2 linked regions of the Homo sapiens genome follow. The protein of the gene in region 2 purifies or fractionates together with the protein of the main gene of each other region. This does not show direct contact. Each region holds a gene or a part of one and is shown on either strand. Other genes may lie near its edges.

What was found.
Region 1: the proteins of PIN4 (region 2) and CHST15 purify together in Homo sapiens (affinity purification with mass spectrometry; 2 studies listed by BioGRID and IntAct, with this or other methods). This does not show direct contact.

Annotation. Positions count from the first base shown.
Region 1 is NC_000010.11:124,091,969-124,095,715, forward strand, and holds the start of CHST15 (carbohydrate sulfotransferase 15), read right to left. Parts: upstream 1,631-3,747; 5' UTR 1,501-1,630; intron 1,360-1,500; exon of another isoform or gene 742-1,359; intron 439-741; exon of another isoform or gene 259-438; intron 1-258. UniProt on the Homo sapiens protein: Sulfotransferase that transfers sulfate from 3'-phosphoadenosine 5'-phosphosulfate (PAPS) to the C-6 hydroxyl group of the GalNAc 4-sulfate residue of chondroitin sulfate A and forms chondroitin sulfate E containing GlcA-GalNAc(4,6-SO(4)) repeating units.
Region 2 is NC_000023.11:72,191,727-72,195,473, reverse strand, and holds part of PIN4 (peptidyl-prolyl cis-trans isomerase NIMA-interacting 4), read right to left. Parts: intron 1-3,747.

The DNA of each region.
Region 1 (3,747 bases), on a different chromosome or scaffold from region 2:
GCTGTGCCCAGGACCCGGGCGGCTCCGAAGCCTCAACACGCACACACTCGCGCGCACGCCGGCCCATCGGTTGCCTGGAGGAGTCGGGAAGGTGCTTCCACGGCTCTTCATTCATTTTCCCAAAGGCAAGGTTCCCTTCGCCCCGGCGCCTCTATCCTGCCATCCCAGGGGGCCAATTGCGCCACAGCCCGCCACCCAGCCACCCACAGCCACCGCGTCCTATCTCCCGGCACACACAACCCAACAGACTCGCATTACATCTCCACCGCCAGCGTCGCCTCCGCGCCCCGGCCGCTGCCATCCGGCTCCCCAGCTTCGCCGCCCCGCAGCCCCGGCTCCCCGCCTCTGGCCTCACCGCGCGGCTCAGAGCTGCCTCGCTCGGCTCGCCGCACCAAGGCCGGCCAGAGACGCCGCCACCGCCGGGAAGCGCCGGCAACTCCCGAGTCACGCCGCCTCCCGAGACGCGGCGGGGCGCAGGGAGGGGACAGCAGTGGGGGCGGGGCGGGGAGGAGGAAGGAGGAGGGGGCGGGGAGCAAAAGTTCACACCGCTCGGGGCTCAGCCGCTCCCCTATCTCTTCCCAGGCCCGCCCCCGCCATCCCCCTTCCCTGAACCGGGTCCCACGGGCTTAGGCGCGGGAGAGCTCTGGCCTCCCCGCCCGGAACCGCCGCAAGGCTAGAGCCAGGGTTCTGGAAGCGCATCCGAGCTCGCAACCGGGGAGAGAGTGGCGGATGCCCACTTACCTGCCCCGGGCCGCGCCTGGAAACTTCCCCAAAGTGCGATAGGGGTGTGGGGGCGGAGCGCAAGGCTGGGGGGAATCCCCGTCCCCTACCGCCAAACGACGCGCGCTCACACCGTGAAAGCACTGGTCTGTCCGTCGGTCGGTCCCCCGCCTGCGGCTCCCAGAGCTGGGCGGTGCAGGGGCGCCCCGATTCCGACTACTGGGCTCCTTCTCCCGGACAGCCCGCCGGTGCGTTCCACGCGGCTTGCGCCCCCCGCCGGCCTCCGGCTATCCACGGCGCCACCACGCCACTGCTCGGTCCCCTGTCCCCTCGCTCCGGCCGCGTCCTCTCTGCGAGGGAGGGGGCGTGTGTCGCCGCTGGGTAACCCTTCCCGCGGGGTCCTCAAGCGCGCAGGGCGCCCGGAGCGCGGCCAGGACCAATGGCGAAGGGACTCCTCCCGCTGGGGATCGCTGAAGCCTCGGGGAGGCCGGGCCAAGGAGCCCGGGGCCCAAACCTGCCTCGGCTCGTCGAGCTCGCAAGTTCATTGTCTGCCTGGGCCGCCGCCGCCACCGCCACCGCCACCACCGCGCCGGGAGCGCCGCGGGGAGTGAGGCTGCGCGCCGCCTCCGCCGGCCCGGACTCCCTACGCCCAGCCCCGGCCGCCGCCGGCGCTGCCTGGCCCGAACCCGCGGAGGGGCGCCGGAGCCCCGAGCCCAGGGCCAGACCTCCTACCGCCGCTCCTCGCCGACCCCACCTCGGCGTCTGGCACCTAACTTGTACCTGAGAAGCCTGAGTCCAGCCCGGGAGCCTCTGCGGCTCCGGCTCCGCGGGAGCGCGCCCAGCCCCGAGCCTCTAGCCCCGCATCCAGGGCGCGTCAACCTGACTCCCCGAGCGCTGGGAGGAAAAGTTTGGGAGTGACGTGCAGACGGCGAATGAAACATCCGAGGAGAACCCTCCCCCCGCCCCATGTCGCGCTGACACACATCAGCTCCAGTCTGGAATGTGAGATCAAGGCGTGTGCGCCGAGCGGTGGGTTTGGCCCCTGCCCCCTCCCCCTCCGAGTCAACACTGCTTGTGTGTTGCGGTGATTCCAAATAAAAGCACATCGAAACCCCTGAAATCTGGCAGTGACACCTTGCCAGATACTTCTTTTTTTTAAAGACAGAGTTTCGCTCTTGTTGCCCAGGCTGGAATGCAATGGCGCGATCTCGGCTCACTGCAACTTCCGCCTCCCGGGTTCAAGAGAGTCTCCTGCCTCAGCCTCCCGGGTTCAAGAGAGTCTCCTGCCTCAGCCTCCCGAGTAGCCGGGATTACAGGCATGCGCCACCACGCAAAATAGGCTAATTTTATATTTTTAGTACAGACGGGGTTTCTCCATGTTGGTCAGGCTGGTCTCGAACTCCCGACCTCAGATGATCCGTCCGCCCCCCCAACCCAAAGTGCTGGGATTACAGGCGTAAGCCACCGCGCCCGGCCGCCAGAGACATCTTTAAGGAACTTGGCGGTCTGGAGCCAGCCCGTACATTAATATTCAAGGCCACAGCGCTGGTGAGTTCGGCGCCCTCTGTTGTATTTTTGCATCCCGGGAAGGCTGGCCCGGCTCTTTGGCCCGGCGTGTTTTGCTTCCGCGGGGGAGGTAAAGCTCTGCAGGACCCCGATCGCCACGGCCTGCCGCAGTGGCCTGGAGTCGGCTGCCCCAGGGAACCACCTGGACAGCCCGAGGGCAAGAAAGCGGCACCAGTGGCCGACTCCACTGACTCTGGGCTGAAGATGCCATCAGTTAAAGAAAAGACACATGAAATTCTGGCAGATTCGCTCAGAGGGCGCTTGGAGCACCAAGCCCAGCCTCTCAGGAAACTGAGGTCCAAGGGACAAAAAGAATCTGCAGTCTCTTGCCGGCCTGTGTCCCCGTGGCCAGAGTCCAGCACCCTCTTCCTCGAAGCAACCAGAAGTGGAAATGAAAGTGCTCCGTTAACTGTAGACTACATGCCACCGAAGGGTCATTCCTGACAGTGGCTTCTCCCCATTATCTCTTTATTGCCGGAGGCTTCATCTCGCCCCCCTGAAGCTACAGTCCACCCTGAGGTCATAAACTTCTGCTCAGCACCCATGGCAACTAATGCAGAGGTCACCATCAGAGGATTATAACTGCAGATGGGAAACCGGGATGAGAGGGGAGTTCTTTAAAATCCTGTCTTGTTTTCCTGCAAATAATGCCTCTTACATAAAATCTGCGAAGAAAGATGAATGCAGCAAAGAGACTTGCCTTAGAATCTCAGACTAGATTGCTTTTTCCATATAGACTCCACTTAGTGATTTTTGTTCTTTATTTTTTTTTTAAACAAAAACCTATTTCTGAAAATACAACGAGCTGCTTTTTGCAGGGTTCACAATTCCCAATAGATGATGATGCCATTTTTCAAGGTCTCACACACGTTGTGGCTTTGGGGCTTATTTATTAGCTCCCAAGAAAAGCCTGCCTTTCAGTGAGGTTTATATACTCGAGTAATTGCATCAGGGGACACAGAGCAGGTTGCTGTTAAAGAGGGTTGGTTGTACATGCGTCTGCAAGGAAGGCCCTGGGCCAGGCAGCTGTCAGACCAGTGTGCAACGGGTTTAAACAAACACAGGGAAGGGTCTGTGGAAACAGCAAGGAGGAAATCCCCTTCTGTAAGGGTGTGTGGAACATTATTCCAGGGCCACACATACTGCCAGGGAATAATGCCTTTCCTCTCCTCCCTCCAAGTAAACACATAACTCCGTTATGGAGATGGCGCTGGGCCCACCCAGATCACTTTCAAATTCAGGTGTCAGAAACCACGGTTGACATGGAGCAAAATTGTTTTTAAGTAAAAATCACGGTGCCGCTTTGATATGAATTCCACCAGGGACTTTCCAAAGGTATTTATACACGTGCCTGAGATTAACTAGAAGGTGATTTTTTTCCTTTCAACCTTAATTTCAAAAAATTACCCAAGAATTGCACTTGAGCCTGTTACTGCAGAGAATTGAAAGAACACCCAAATG
Region 2 (3,747 bases):
AGATGGGTTTCACTGTGTTGGCCAGGCTGGTCTCAAATTCCTGGCCTAAAGTGATCTGCCCACCTCAGCTCCCAAAGTGCTGGGATTACAGGTGTCAGCACACCGTGCCTGGCCAGGAAGTATTTCTTACTAAAAGAGACCCAATGTATAAGCCTCCCCACAATTCCACACTTTGAAAAGGTATCATAGGTTGAATATTAAGAACGCCCAACCCTACTGAAGTATTCAAATTTGACCTATGTTTACATAAAGCCATGGATTTAAAAAAACACTATTATCCTTGAAAATGATTTTGTCAAGATAGCTGTTTCGCAGGATTTCTCATTTCACATTCAAATAGAATCACTTATAGTCACGCGTCACTTAACTACAGGGAAACATGAGAAATGAGTTATTAGGCAATTTTGTTTTTGTGCAAACATAACACTGTACTTACACAAACCTAGATGGTATGGCCAGCTACATATCTAGGCTATATGGCATAGCCTATTGCTCCTAGGCTACAAACCTGTACAGTATGTGACTGTACTGAATACCATAAGCAACTGTAACACAATGGTTTAAGTATTTGGGTATCTAAACATAGAAAAGGTACAGTAAAAATATAGTATAAAAGATAAAAAATGGTACACTTATATAGGACACTTTACATGAATGGAGCTTGCAGGACTGGAAGTTGCTCTGGGTGAGTCAGTGAGTGGTGAGTGAATATGAAGGCCTAGGACATTACTGTACACTACTGTAGACTTTTTTTTTTTTTTTTTTTTTTTTTGAGATGGAGTTTCGCTCTTTTGCCCAGGCTGGAGTGCAATGATGCGATCTTGGCTCACCGAAACCTCCCCCTCCTTAGTTCAAGTGAGTCTCCTGCCTCAGCCTCCTGAGTAGCTGGGATTACAGGCATGCACCACCACGCCTGGCTAGCGGCTAATTTTTTTTTTTCTGAGACGGAGTCTTGCTCTGTCGCCCAGGCTGGAGTGCAGCAGTGCGATCTCAGCTCACTGCAACCTCCCTCTCCCGGGTTCAAGTGATTCTCCTGCCTCAGCCTCCCTAATAGCTGGGATTACAGGCACGCGCCACCACACCTGGATAAGTTTTGTATTTTTAGTAGAGATGGTTTCGCCATGTTGGTCAGGCTGGTCTCGAACTCCTGACCTCAGGTGATCCGCTTGTCTTGGCCTCCCAAAGTGCTGGGATTACAGACATGAGCCACCATACCCGGCCTAATTTTGTATTTTTTGTAGAGACGGGGTTTCACCATGTTGATCAGGCTGGTCTCGAACTCCTGACCTCAAGTGATCCACCCGCCTTGACCTCCCAAAGTGCTGGCATTACAGGCATGAGCCACCGCACCCGTCCCCTACTGTAGACTTTATACACACTATACATGTAAGCTACAATTTATAAAACACTTTTCTTTATTCAATATTAAATTAGCCTTAGGTTATTATATCTTTTTAACTTTATACATTTAAAAAATTTTAAACTTTTGGACTCTATTTAATAACACTTGGCTTAAAAAACAAACACATTGTGCAACTGTACAAAACTATTTTCTTTCTTCATATCCTTATTCTATAAGCTTTTTTCTTTTTTTTTTTTTTGAGATGAAGTCTCATTCTGTCATCCAAGTCGGAGTGCAGTAGCACAATCTCAGCTCACTGCAACCTCCGCCTCCCAGGTTCAAGCGATTCTTGTGTCTCTCAGCCTCCTGAGTAGCTGGGATTACAGGCGCGTGTCACCACGCCAAGCTAATTTTTGTATTTTTTGTAGAGACAGGGTTTCACAGTGTTAGCCAGGCTGGTCTTGAACTCCTGACCTCAAGTGATCTGCCTACCTCAACCTCCCAAAAATGTTGGGATTATAGGTGTGAGCCACCACGCCCAGCCACTATAAGCTTTTTTCTATTTAAAATTTTTTTTTTTAATTTTTAAACTTTTTTATTAAAGACTAAGACACAAATACACACACTAGCTTAGGCCCACACAGGGTCAGGATCATCAATATCACTGTTTTCTACCTCCATGTCCTGTCCCATGGAAAGGTCTTCAGGGACAATAACATGCATGGGACTGTCATCTCCTATGATAATGCCTTCTTCTGGAATACCTCCTGAAGGACCTGCCTGAGGCTGTTTTACAGTTAATTTTTTTTTTTTAAGAGACAGCTTCTAGATTGCCTCCTTGTTTCTGCTTCCATACTCACAAAGTGATTGTCTGATACAATTCCTGGGAAAATGTACACTGCATTCGTGGTCACAGATAGGGGATACCGTCCACCATTTTATAAATGAATAAACGAGTATTCTAGTTTAGACAGTGCGACAAAGAGTTTTTCATTCCTGTGGGGTCTGCAAGTGTGACCAACGAACTGGCAACAGTGCAGCTGTGTCTTGGAGAGCCAAGCTACAGAAAGAGTTTGGGAGTGATGACTATGGAGGTGGCAGCTGAAGTGTGGAATTCATGAGGTTACCAGGAAGGAGATGAAAATGAGAAGAGGAGGAAAGAAAGCTAAAGTAACCTTGGAGACTATCAATGTTCAAGCAACAAGTAAAGAACTCAAAAAGTGTAATAAAAAGGGGCGAGGCGCAGTGGCTCACACCTATAACCCCAGCACTTTGGGAGGCCAAGGTGGGAGGATCCCTTGAGGATGGGAGTTTGAGACCAGTCTGGGCAACATAGTAAGACCCCCATCTCTACAAAAACTTTAAAAAAAATTAGCCGGGCATGGTGGTGCACATCTGTAGTCTTAGCTACTCAGGAGGCTGAGGCAGGAGGATCACTTGAGCCCAGGAATTGAAGGCTGCAGTGAGCTATGATCATGCCACTGCATGTCATGCACCCCGGCCTGTGTGACAGAGCAAGAACCTGTCTCTTAAAAAGAAAAAAGAAAAAAGCATAATAAAAAGGAAAGGCCATATAGGTAGGAGAGAAGCGTGTGCTAACAAACCAAGGCAGGAGAGAGTTTCAAGGAGGAAATGGTCAACAAGGGTTAAGGGTTGCAGAGACATCAGGTAAGAAGTATAATACATTGTGCAATGATGGAACAATGATCTCAGAAAAAGGAGTTTCAGAAGAGTTTAAGTGCAGAAGCCAGAATACAGCAGGCTGACTGAGGAAACAATGTCAAGTGGGAGGGTAATTCAAACAAACTAACTTTGTTTGAAAAGGAGAAAGGGCTCTGGCTAGAGGCAAAAAGTGGAAGACATGTAAATACGAAATTTACACTGGGCGAGGTGGCTCAGGCCTGTAATCCCAGCACTTTGGGAGGCAGAGGTGGGCGGATCACCTGAGGTGAGGAATTGGAGACCAGCCTGGCCAACATGGAGAAATCCCATCTCTACTAAAACTACAAACAATTAGCCGGGAGTGGTGGTGGATGCCTGTAATCCCAGCTACTCGGGAGGCTGAAGCAGGAGAATCGCTTGAAACTGGGAGATGGAGGTTGCAGTGAGCCAAGATCGCGCCACTGCACTCCAGCCTGGGCAACAAGAGTGAGACTCCATCTCAAAAACAAAAACAAAAACAAAAAAACCCACGAATTTTAAAGGTCCCTGGGCATATTTTCGGAATGAAGGGAAAGACCTAGGAAAAAAAAAACCGGTTGAAGACAGAACAAAAAAGAGGGTAGAGATAAATGAAGGAGCAAGGTTTGGTATTCAGAACACGGTTTGAAAAATTAGCCTTAAAGGAAAAAAGGTGAGGAGGTAACTTTGTTGCTAGGGGGCTGAAAGCCAATGAGTTCCTGACA